Regions from separate parts of the Homo sapiens genome. Here region 1 is linked to region 2. The links come from fine-mapping of genetic effects on gene expression. Tissue or cell type: monocytes. Region 2 holds a variant in brackets; the other region holds the start of a gene. All regions are shown on one strand. Distances are from middle to middle.

The links. PIP is the estimated chance that this variant, and not a neighbour inherited with it, causes the effect.
Region 1: it holds the start of CDK5RAP3, and the variant in region 2 is fine-mapped to the expression of CDK5RAP3 in monocytes (Fairfax 2014, PIP 0.95).

Annotation. Positions count from the first base shown.
Region 1 is chr17:47,969,058-47,974,057 of GRCh38, forward strand. CDK5RAP3 (CDK5 regulatory subunit associated protein 3) reads left to right here and starts at 2,056. Exons shown (of 14, transcript NM_176096.3): 1 at 2,056-2,095; 2 at 2,305-2,350; 3 at 4,462-4,593; 4 at 4,874-4,974. The coding sequence starts at 2,090. RefSeq lists a silencer at 1,707-1,996 and an enhancer at 2,418-3,045.
Region 2 is chr17:48,016,636-48,022,502 of GRCh38, forward strand. No RefSeq gene overlaps it. Among named protein-coding and RNA genes, the nearest start is that of MIR10226, 13 kb to the right of the region's middle. RefSeq lists an enhancer at 1,069-1,168. The variant CA/C (reference allele first, on the strand shown) is at 3,048.

The sequences.
Region 1 (5,000 bases), 48 kb before region 2:
AGAAATACCCTGAGATAGGATAGCTGTTATCTCCATGTGGGGAAACTGTGGCTATCAGATAGGTTATAGAAATGGTCCAAGACCTCACTGGGCAGAATCTAGGTCTTCCTGCTGCTGTATCACACTATGCATTTCAATCAAAAATTTACTAAGCCTCAAGTGTTGTGCTGTGGTGAACAGGAGCTGGGGAAGGAATATTTAGAAATGGCATACCCAGGGCCGGGCGCGGTGGCTCACGCCTGTAATCCCAGCACTTTAGGAGGCTGAAGCGGGAGAATCACGAGGTCAGGAAATCGAGACCATCCTGGCTAACACGGTGAGACCTCGTCTCTACTAAAAATACAAAAAAATTAGCCGGGCGTGGTGGCGGGCGCCTGTAGTCCCAGCTACTGGGGAGGCTGAGGCAGGAGAATGGCGTGAACCCAGGAGGCAGAGCTTGCAGTGAGCCGAGATCGTGTCACTGCACTCCAGCCCGGGCGACAGAGCGTGACTCCGTCTCAAAAAAAAAAAAAAAAAAAAAAAAAAAAGAAAAGGCATACCCAGCGCTGTGAGATCCTGGGGGATCTGGCCTCAGCCTACCCTCCCTCCTTACTCTACCCACTTCTTGGCCAATCTCAGACTCTCCCTTAGCTTCAGCCACCACTCGGACCACAGATTAGCCAGCTTGTGACTCTCCAAGCTGTATCTCCAGCCCCGACAACTCCCTCGAACTCCAAAATTATAGACCCAAGTGCCTTCTGCACACTTTCCATCTGGGGGTCTCCCAGCATTGCCAGACTAGGTTCAAAGCTAGACCCCCTCCTCCCCAACACCTGCTCAGCATCCTGCATCCCTGTCTCAGGTGGTGGTTCCCACCTAATCACCTAGGTGTCATCCTTAGTGTCTCTCTCCTCCACCCAAACAGCCAATCAATTGCCAAGTCCTATACATTTTCCTCCTAAATATTCCTCAGATCCAGCCCTTCCCCTTCCTCCTCATATCTTGTGTCCCAGCTCAGGCTATAATCCCTCGATAACAACCTCCTTCCAGCCTCCTTGTCCCCAGTCTTATCTCCCATGCATCCATCATCCCAGCAGCCTATCTGTACAGGTTCCTCCCTGCCTCAAACCCCTTCTGTGATTCCTCTGTCTGAAGGGATGAAGTCCAAGTTCCTTAATAAGTCTCCCTTTGATATGGCCTTTCCACCCTTACAGCCTCTCCTCTAGCCACTCGCTGCCTCAAACCATCTACGGTATAGAGGTTGGCCTGCCCGCGGAGCCGACTTCATCTTGAAATTCTTCATCATTTTGTAACAAGCAGCTGTGCATTTCCATTTTGCACTGGACCTCACAAATTACGTTGCCCGTCCTGCCTGCCTGTTGTTGCTTGCACCCCTCTTGCAGTTTGTGGCCACCTAAGCTTTGTCTGTGTAGTCTCCTCCACCTAAAACTCCTCTTCCCACATCACCCAGCTATCTTCAGCTCTTCGTTTAGACTCAATGTAGGTGTTCTCTTTGGGACGTCTCACCGACTCTCTTCCTTCCCCTTCCCTGCCCTAATCGCCCAACACGTTGCAGGTGCTCAACCATGTCTATTAGAGAAACTGAATGAGGAGGCAAAGCATGACAAGTGCCACAAGAGACCTGCACACTGCTCTGGATGGTAAAGCGACGCAAGGAGGGAAGAAGGTATTTGCAACGGCCTCCCAGATCGGCGCTAGGACCCCGCCAGCAGACGTCTCAATCTGCGTGGAGAAGACCCAGTGCCCGCCAGGGGAAGCGGCTGCCAGGCTGGGCTCTCGAGCGCCGCCTGTCGCAATCCCACGGCCGCTGCAGCGCACCCCCTCCCGTCCCCTGCCCTGAGCCCGCCTCGCGTCTCCAATTGGCTGTCTCCATTCTCCCGCCCCTCCCGAGCTCAGCCATTCGGAGCCTGGGGTGGGCGGGGCTTGAGGCCTGAGTGGAGCGTAAACCCTGATTGGCTGTACGGAAGGCGGCGACGTGGCCGAAGGATGCCCGTTTGTGTCTAAACGGAGGCTCGGCCACAACGCCACTGGATTGGTGGTAGGGCGGGGCGGGCCACAGTCTCCAGCCTGAAGCGGAAGTGGAGGAAAGATGGAGGTGTGGGGACAGGAGCTGGGTGTGCTGGGGACTGGCCGCGGACCCCTAACCTGTGTCTCCGGTCTCCCTCCGGAAGCGGCTCAACCCAGCCCATCGCTCTGGCCCCGTTCTGGCCCTGCAGGGTGGTGGTTGGGACGTTGAAATGAGCGCGCGAGTGGTACGTCCTCTCTCCGCGCTCACGCCCCCCTCCTCACCGTGTTTCCCGCCAGGACCATCAGCACGTGCCCATCGACATCCAGACCAGCAAGCTGCTCGGTAGGAGGGGGCGCCACCGCGCAGCTGGCTGTCGGGGGGAGGCCTGTGCGTTGCCCCCTGTGTCCAATAGCCGGGAGCTCTGACCCCTGAAAGCCTGAGTCGAGATGCTGACCACTGGCCTCGTTCTATGCCCCATCTGTGGCCAGACCTGCTTCCCTGATAGCAGCGGGAACGAACCATATGTACAGTCTGTTTGACCTGCGTTTTCTCCTTTAATAACATATGTTATCGTATCATTCAGGGACAGGATAAATGACTCGCTTTAAAAACAGTCAACCACTGCCGGGCGCGGTGGCTCATGCCTGTAATCCCAGCACTTTGGGAGGCCGAGGTGGGCGAATCACCTGAGGTCAGGAGTTCGAGACCAGCCTGACCAACATGGAGAAACCTTGTCTCCATGTCTCCATGACTAAAAATACAAAAAAATAAAAATAAAAAGTAGCCGGGCATGGGAGCACATGCCTGTAATCCCAGCTACTCGGGAGGCTGAGGTGGGAGAATTGCTTGAACCCCGGAGGCAGAGGTTGCGGTGAGCAGAGATCTCACTATTGCACTCCAGCCTGGGCAACGAGAGCGAAACTCCATCTCAAAAAGAAGACAAAAAACAGTCAACCACTAAGTGGCACATCTGAATTGGAACTTAAGTCTGTCTGACCCACTGTCCATGCCTTTTGCATTATGCCAGGAAAAAAAAAAAAAACCTCATTTAAAAAGCTTCCACCTCCCCCTTGATTTTAGGAGGAAGAGGGACCTAAGACCCAGTTGCAAATGAAAACCTTTTAGTGTCCAGGCCATCTCCAGGTTGTCTGTATGGGGCTTACATACTTCCTCCCCAGTTCATAGTCAGGGAAGGCCTCTTCATCTGATCACACAGCTCCTGGCATTTTAAAATGCTTATTGGATTCATGGATTTGATGCCAATCTTGTCCTTAAGATGGTGTCTGTTTGACTACCCCAGTCCGTTGCTTCTAGTTCTGTGACATCAACAGAATTTTTCTTTCTGAAAACTTTACAGGAATATAGCAGAGAGAGTATAACTGATACTAGTGTGGGACCCCAGCGTTTGACCGGTTGGCAGAGTTCAAGTTCTGAATTCACCACTCTGTAGTGCCATTTAGTCAGTCCTGCTTGGTGGTCACGGGGGAAGCTTCTTTAGCCTCCCTTCAGATTTGTACTGGCCCTTCAGCCCATGTGCAGTCTTGGTGTGTGAGCTTGTTCTTGGTCATGAAAAGGACCAATAAAATGACCACCATTCATTGAGGGTTTTTTTTTGTACCAGGTGCTGTTTTAGGCACTTGACATGATAAAAATGATCACTGTCATTTTTTGAGTCCTTGCCGTGTCTCAGGCACACTGTTCAGTGTTTTACCTGCATTCCCTTTTCTAGTCAGTGTCTTATTATTCCCCATTTTACATGTGGGAAAACTGAGGCACAGAATAGTAGACTTGCTCAAGAAACTTGATAACGAGAACCCAGGACCATCTGACCACAAAGCTCAGCTCTTAGCTCTCACTGAGGAAATATGCATGGCTCTGAAGCCACAAATCTGGGCCCAGACTTTGAGAGGTCAGTCCCATTGGTATTCACATGTACAGGGTGGTACTTCACTGTTCACAACAGAGTCATGTTATCTAGTCCTTAGGGCGCTGTAGGTATTAGGGGCTTTGCAGCTGTTCATTCATCCAGTACTTGGCATAACCATCTTGTATTTTCCATTGTCATGGTTAACCCCAGCCCTGAGGAAATGGAAGTTGAGCAGCATCCTCTTGTCAGGAAGAAAGATATAATTACCCATAGAAGCAAAAATATTATGGGGAATTGAGAATGGTCAAAAGTGGCACTTTCAGGACCAATTTAAACTTTTTGTTATCCCTGTGTTGAGGCAATTGCTCTATAAAAATCACACTGCTAATGAAGTCAGATTGTCAGAGCCTGGTTTAGCCCCAGGCATCTCTTTGGGCTTGTCTTTATTCCCATCTTCCCATGACCCCCATACTTTAACCAATGTAAAGAAAACTTTTAGACTAATTTCAGTGTATTTCACTCGAATTAGTGATGGAATTTTGGTGATGTGAATGGGAATGCTCTAATTTGGGTGCTTCTCATGTAGATTGGCTGGTGGACAGAAGGCACTGCAGCCTGAAATGGCAGAGTCTGGTGCTGACGATCCGCGAGAAGATCAATGCTGCCATCCAGGACATGCCAGAGAGCGAAGAGATCGCCCAGCTGCTGTCTGGGTCCTGTGAGTGCTTAGGGGCTGTCACTGGAGTCCCCTCTTTGCTGAGGTAGTATGTATCAGCTGAGCTACTCTCTTGTTATTTAGCCACCAGGGCTGGCCTTTAGAGAGGGAGCGATTTTTATTTGAGGTATAGATGCTGGCTTCTTCCACTATGAAATGATTTAGGGAAAAGCTACACACTAAAGTTACTGGCAGTATATTATACATGAATCAGCCACCTGCAGTGCCCAGAGTAGGTGAAGAAGATACTTTAGTTCTCGAAATCCCGTCTCTTGCTTTCTAGACATTCACTACTTTCACTGCCTAAGAATCCTGGACCTTCTCAAAGGCACAGAGGCCTCCACGAAGAATATTTTTGGCCGATACTCTTCACAGCGGATGAAGGCAAGTGTGGGCCAAGGGCCGGTAGT
Region 2 (5,867 bases):
GTGGGAATGACAACGCCTGCCTCCTTCACTGAGATAGAGGTACAAAAAAATTACATGTGTGAAAGAAATAGAATACTTTTACGGATCCTGACAAATGTGAGTTTACATAAATCCTATTAAAAGAACATTGTGCAAGAAGCTTTTCTGTGTCTTGTATATAAATTATCCTCAGAAAAGAAGTGCAGCTGATGGGACTCACTTATTAATTTCATTATTTAAAAAACAGACGTGCTGGGCGTGGTGGCTTATGTCGGTAATCCCAGCACTTTGGGAGGCCAAGGCGGGAGGATCACTTGAGGTCAGGAGTTTGAGACTAGCCTGGCCAATATGGTGAAACCCTGTCTCTACTAAAAATACAAAAATTAGCTGGGCATGGTGTTGTGTGCCTCTAGTCCCAGCTACTTGGGAGGTTGAAGCACGAGAATCACTTGAACCCAGGAGGCACATGCAGCAGTGAGTCAGGATGGCGCCACTTACTCCAGCCTGGGCGACAGAGCAAGATTCTGTCTCAATAAATAAATAAATAAATAAATAAATAAATAAATAAATAAATAAAATAAAAATTAGAAAACGCTATTGGAGCCAGCCATGGTGGCTCCCAGCACTTTGGGAGGCCGAGGTGGGCAGATTGCTTGAGCTCAGGAGTTCGAGACCAGCCTGGGCAACATGGTGAAACCCCGTCTCTACTAAAAATACAAAAATTAACCAGGCATGGTGGCAGGTGCCTGTAATCCCAGCTACTCAAGAGGCTGAGGCAGGAGAATTACTTGAACCTGGGAGGTGGAGGTTGCAGTGAGCAGAGACTGTGCCACTGTACACTAGCCTGGGTGATAGAGTGAGACTGTTAAAAAAAAAAAAAGCATGCAAAGAAAAATGTGCATTGGGGTTTTGAGTCAAGAGCCCTGCTATTTTTTCTTACTGCCCAGGAAGGCACTCCTTGTCAAGGGAATTCTATTTATAAACGTTATATTCTCATGATCTGCAGAAAACACAGGGCAGAAAGAGGAAGAGGTAAGAGGGTTCCAGGAAACCCTCTTTCTTGTCTCAGTTCTGTCCCTTGTTAGCTGTGTGACATTGGGTAAGTCAACCTTTGAGTTTCACTTTCCTAATCTGAAGGCCTCTAGCTTGCTCTCCCAGAAAGATCCACTTTTTTTTTTCTACCTTAGAGTATAAACTTCAGTCAGTGCCCAAGCCCCTCAGACCCCTTCCTCAACCTCCCAGCTACCTTGGGGAATGGGTCCAAATCTCCAGAGTTGGAGGAAAAGGTCTGTATTTGTTTTCTGTTTGTTTGTTTGAGACAGAGTCTCACTCCATCACCCAGGCTGTAGTGCAGTGGCGCAGTCTCGGCTCACTGCAACCTCCATCTCTTGGGTTCAAGCAATTCTCCTGCCTCACCCTCCCGAGTAGCTGGGATTACAGGCATGTGTCACCATGCCCAGCTAATTTTTGTATTTTTAGTAGAAACAGGGTTTCACCATGTTGGCCATGTTGGTCTCGAACTCCTGACCTAAAGTGATCTGCCCACCTCGGCCTCCCAAAGTGCTGGGATTACAGGAGCGAGACACCATGCCCAGCCAGGTCTGTATTTCTTGACAGTGTTTCTTGATCAGAGGCCCTGTTTTCTCAGGACAATTGCTGTCCCAGGTGCCCAGGGTCTCTCACCTTCGTGTTCCCATGGAGGTGCTCACAGCTCTGATGTGGGAACCCCCAAGGTTCTCCTCTGTGGTCTAGGGAGTATCTAGGAATGGACTGCAATGCTCAGCACTGTGAGATAACTCCTGCCCAATAGAGAGTAGAGATGCCCTCTAGGTCTGGTTCCTGCAAGCCTTTTCATAGTCCCGTCACTGATCCCGGCCAGGCTAAGGATGAAAGAGGGGCTTGTCTTACAGCACCATCTTCTGGGCAAACCTGTGAGAGCTACTTCTTCTTGCTGCCATCTGGAGAACACTGAGATTTTGGGGGACTTTGGGTCCCAGAAGTTTTGTTTGTTTGTTTGTTTGAGATGGAGTCTCGCTCTGTCACCCAGGGCTGGAGTGCAGTGGTGCGATCTTGGCTCACTGCAACTTCCATCTCCCGGGTTCAAGCGATTCTCCTGCCTCAGCCTCTGAGTAGCTGGGACCAGAGGCGCACGTCACTATGCCCAGCTAATTTTTGTATTTTTAGTAGAGACGGGGTTTCACCATGTTGGTCAGGCTTGTCTCAAACTTCTGACCTCGTGATCTGCCCACCTCGGCCTCCCAAAGTGCTGGGATTACAGGTGTGAGCCACCACGCCCGGCCGATTCCAGAAGTTTTTATCTTACCTGTTTCCCCAAGATAAATTAATTCTGGACTTTTCCAGCCATCTCTTAGGAGAGGATGTTCCAAGAGCCCTCCAACCTTCCAAACACAAGGCTGCTAGGAATGGTAAGCAGCTGAAACCAGTCTTCCAATCATTCCACCCAGAACCTGAGTCCTCACCTACTCACCCCATATATCCCCACCCCAGAACACCCTGTCACTCACTAAGAAGCTGTTGTCTGGAAGCAAGGTTATAGCCTCATCACTTCCAGAGTTTTCTTCTATCCTCAAGTTTATTTGTTTGTTTGTTTCAGATGAGGGCTCACTGGCAGCCATGAGAGTAAAACACATATTTTCAATCTCTTAAAAATCAGGTGTCTGGATTGGCTGTGATGGCTCATGCCTGTAATCCCAGCACTTTGGGAGGCTGACTTGGGTGGATCGCTTGAGTCCAGGAGTTCAAGACCAGCCTGGGCAACATGGCAAAATCCTGTCTCTACAATAAACAAAAAATTAGCCGGGTGTGGTGGCATGTGCCTGTAGTCCCAGCTACCTGGAGGTTGAGGCTGCAGTGAGCCATGATCACGCCACTGTACTCCAACCTAGGCGACAGAGCAAAACTCTGTCCCTTAGGAAAAAAAAAAAAGGCTAGGCATGGCGGCTCAATCCTGTAATCCCAGCACTTTGGGAGGCTGAGGCAGGAGGATCACTTGAGCCCAGGAGTTTGAGAACAGCCTGGACAACAAAGTGAGACCCCCATCTCCCTAC[CA/C]AAAAAAAAAAAGCAAAAAAAAAAAAAGCAAGGTGTCGTGGTGTGCACCTATAGTCCAAGCTACATGGGAAGCTGAAGTAGGAGGATCACTTCTCCCCAGGAAATCAAGGCTGCAGTGAACCGTATTCATGCCACTGCACTCCAGGCTGGGTGACAGAGCAAGACCCAGTCTCAAAAAAAAAAAAAAAAAATCAGATGTCTAGACAAAGAGAAATTGTGGATCTGGTCAAATGGAATCAGATCCCTCTTGCTACTTCTTTTTCTTTCATTTGAAGTGTATGTGTCTATTTTCAGAGTGGGGTACGTGAGAGTGATAAGAGGGCACTAAATATATAAGATATAAAGTAGACTTGTGTTTTTTTTTGTTTGTTTGTTTTTTGTTTTTTTGAGACGGAGTTTCGCTCTTGTTGCCCAGGCTGGAGTGCAATGGTGCAATCTCAGCTCACTGAAACCTCCACCTCCCGGGTTCAAGCAATTCTCCTGCCTCAGCCTCCCGAGTAGCTGGAATTACAGGCACCTGCCACCATGCCTGGCTAATTTTTTTTTTTTTTTTTTTTGTATTTTTAGTAGAGACGGGGGTTTCACCATCTTGGCCAGGCTGGTCTTGAACTCCTGACCTTGTGATCCACCTGCCTTGGCCTCCCAAAGTGCTGGGATCACAGGCATGAGCCACCGTGCCCGGCCGACTTGTTATTTTTAAACATACTTTTCAGAACCTAAATATTCAGATCATTGTCCCTGACAAAATGGTCCTTTTGGAGGGCCTTTTTTGGAATGATTGCCTGCAATTATCTGAATTAATTCAAGCACCAACTCTTCAAATTCTGAGAGTGGACTTGATTTTTGCAAGCTGCTTGGTGAGTAAGATCAGCAATCAAGCTGGGTGGTACTGTTTTAGATCAAGAATGAGAAGTGACTGTAATGAAAATATTTCGTTTTGGGGGTCATAAATTGACCCTGAATTCCTGTTCTCTTCTTTAACCCAGGTTCCATGTTGCTAGCAGAGTTCCTCCCTCAAAACATAGAGCTGATATCACTTAACAGCTTGAAAATCTTCAGTGGTTCCCTATTACCTTCAGAACACAGGCCAAGTTCTTTACTGACTTTTTGTTTTGTTTTGTTTTGTTTTTTTGAGATGGAGTTTCGTTCTTGTTGCCCAGGCTGAAGTGTAATGGCACGATCTTGGCTCACCGAAACCTCTGCCTCCTGGGTTCAAGCGATTCTCCTGCCTCAGCCTCCCGAGTAGCTGGGATTACAGGCATGCACCACCACACCCTGCTAATTTTGTATTTTTAGTAGAGACAGGGTTTCTCCATGTTGGTCGGGCTGGTCTCGATCTCAGGTGATCCACCCACCTTGTCCTCCCAAAGTACTGGGATTACAGGTGTGAGCCATGGCGACTGGCCACAAGCCAAGTTCTTTAGCTCTGTGGTTGGGGTAAAGAAGAGCCAGCAATGGAGTCAGACCAGAATGGGTTTAAATCCCACCTATGAGCTCTGAGGCAAGTTATTCAGTCTCTCAGACTCTCAGCTCTCTCATTTGTAAAAAGAAGGCTAACGGGCCAGGCGCGGTATACCCAACACTTTGGGAGGCCAAAGTGGACAGATCGCTTGAGCTCAGGAGTTTGAGACCAGCCTGGGCAACATGGTGAGACCTCGTGTCTATTAAAAAATTTTTAAAAATTAGCTGGGTGTGGTGGTACATGCCTGTGGTCCCAGCTACTCGGGGGACTGAGGTAAGAGGATAGCTTGAGCCCCGGAGGTTGAGGCTGCAGCGAGCCTATCAATACCTACTTTGTTAGGTTGTTTTGAGGACAATGGTAATTTTAAGGTGTATATAGTAGCAAACTCAATAAATAGCAGTCATTCTTCAGCATGGCATTCATTGCTCACTGCGACCCAGTTGCAACCTATCTAGAAGAAACCTCAGATCTCAACACACTCCCTGCAGACACACACCATTCCAGTTACATTTGCCTACTGAAATTCCTTAAACAATACAGAGATTTTTTTTCTTTTTCTTTTTTTTTTTTTTTTTTTTTTTTTTAGACAGGGTCTTGCTCTGTCCTCCAGGCTGGAGTGCAGTGGCATGATCTCAGCTCACAGCAGCCTCAGCCTCCTGGACTCAAGTGATCCTTCCACCTCAGCCCACGGTGCCCCCTCTCCCCCCAGTAGCTGGGACTACAGGCACACACCACTACACCCAGCTAATTTTTTTTTTTTTTGTAGAGGCAGGGTTTTGCCATGTTGCCCAGGCTGGTCTCGAACTCCCAGACTCAAGCAACCTGCCTGTCTCACCCTTCCTAAGTGCTGAGATTACAGGCATGAGCCACTGCGCCCAGCCTAAACGGAGATTCCTTACCTCTGGCCTTGCTTATGTTGTTGCTCCCTTTGGGGTGTCTCTTTCCCCATCTTCCTTCTTTACATGTTATGTAATACACCGTTTCCTCTGTGAATATTTATCATTTCCTTATCTGCATACATGACTTTGTCCCCAGCCAAATTGTAATCTCCTTGAGTCAGGAACTGTGTTTCCCAATTCATTTTAGAAGCTCCCAACAATCCCCAGCAAGGTACCTGGCCTGGAAACAGCCTGTTAGTAAATGTCTGTTGAACGAATTCATTCCAAAAGAGTTTATTTTATTATTATTATTAACGTTGCTTTTCTTACCAAAGGGTGCATTTTGAGGAATGGCGTTAATCTATATGTGCAGTATAAAATTTACATGTGTCTCACACTCTTATTTATTTAGAAACTCATCTAACATGTTTACCAGTTTCTGTTCATAGAGATGAGGAAGAGATTAGGAAACAGATGAG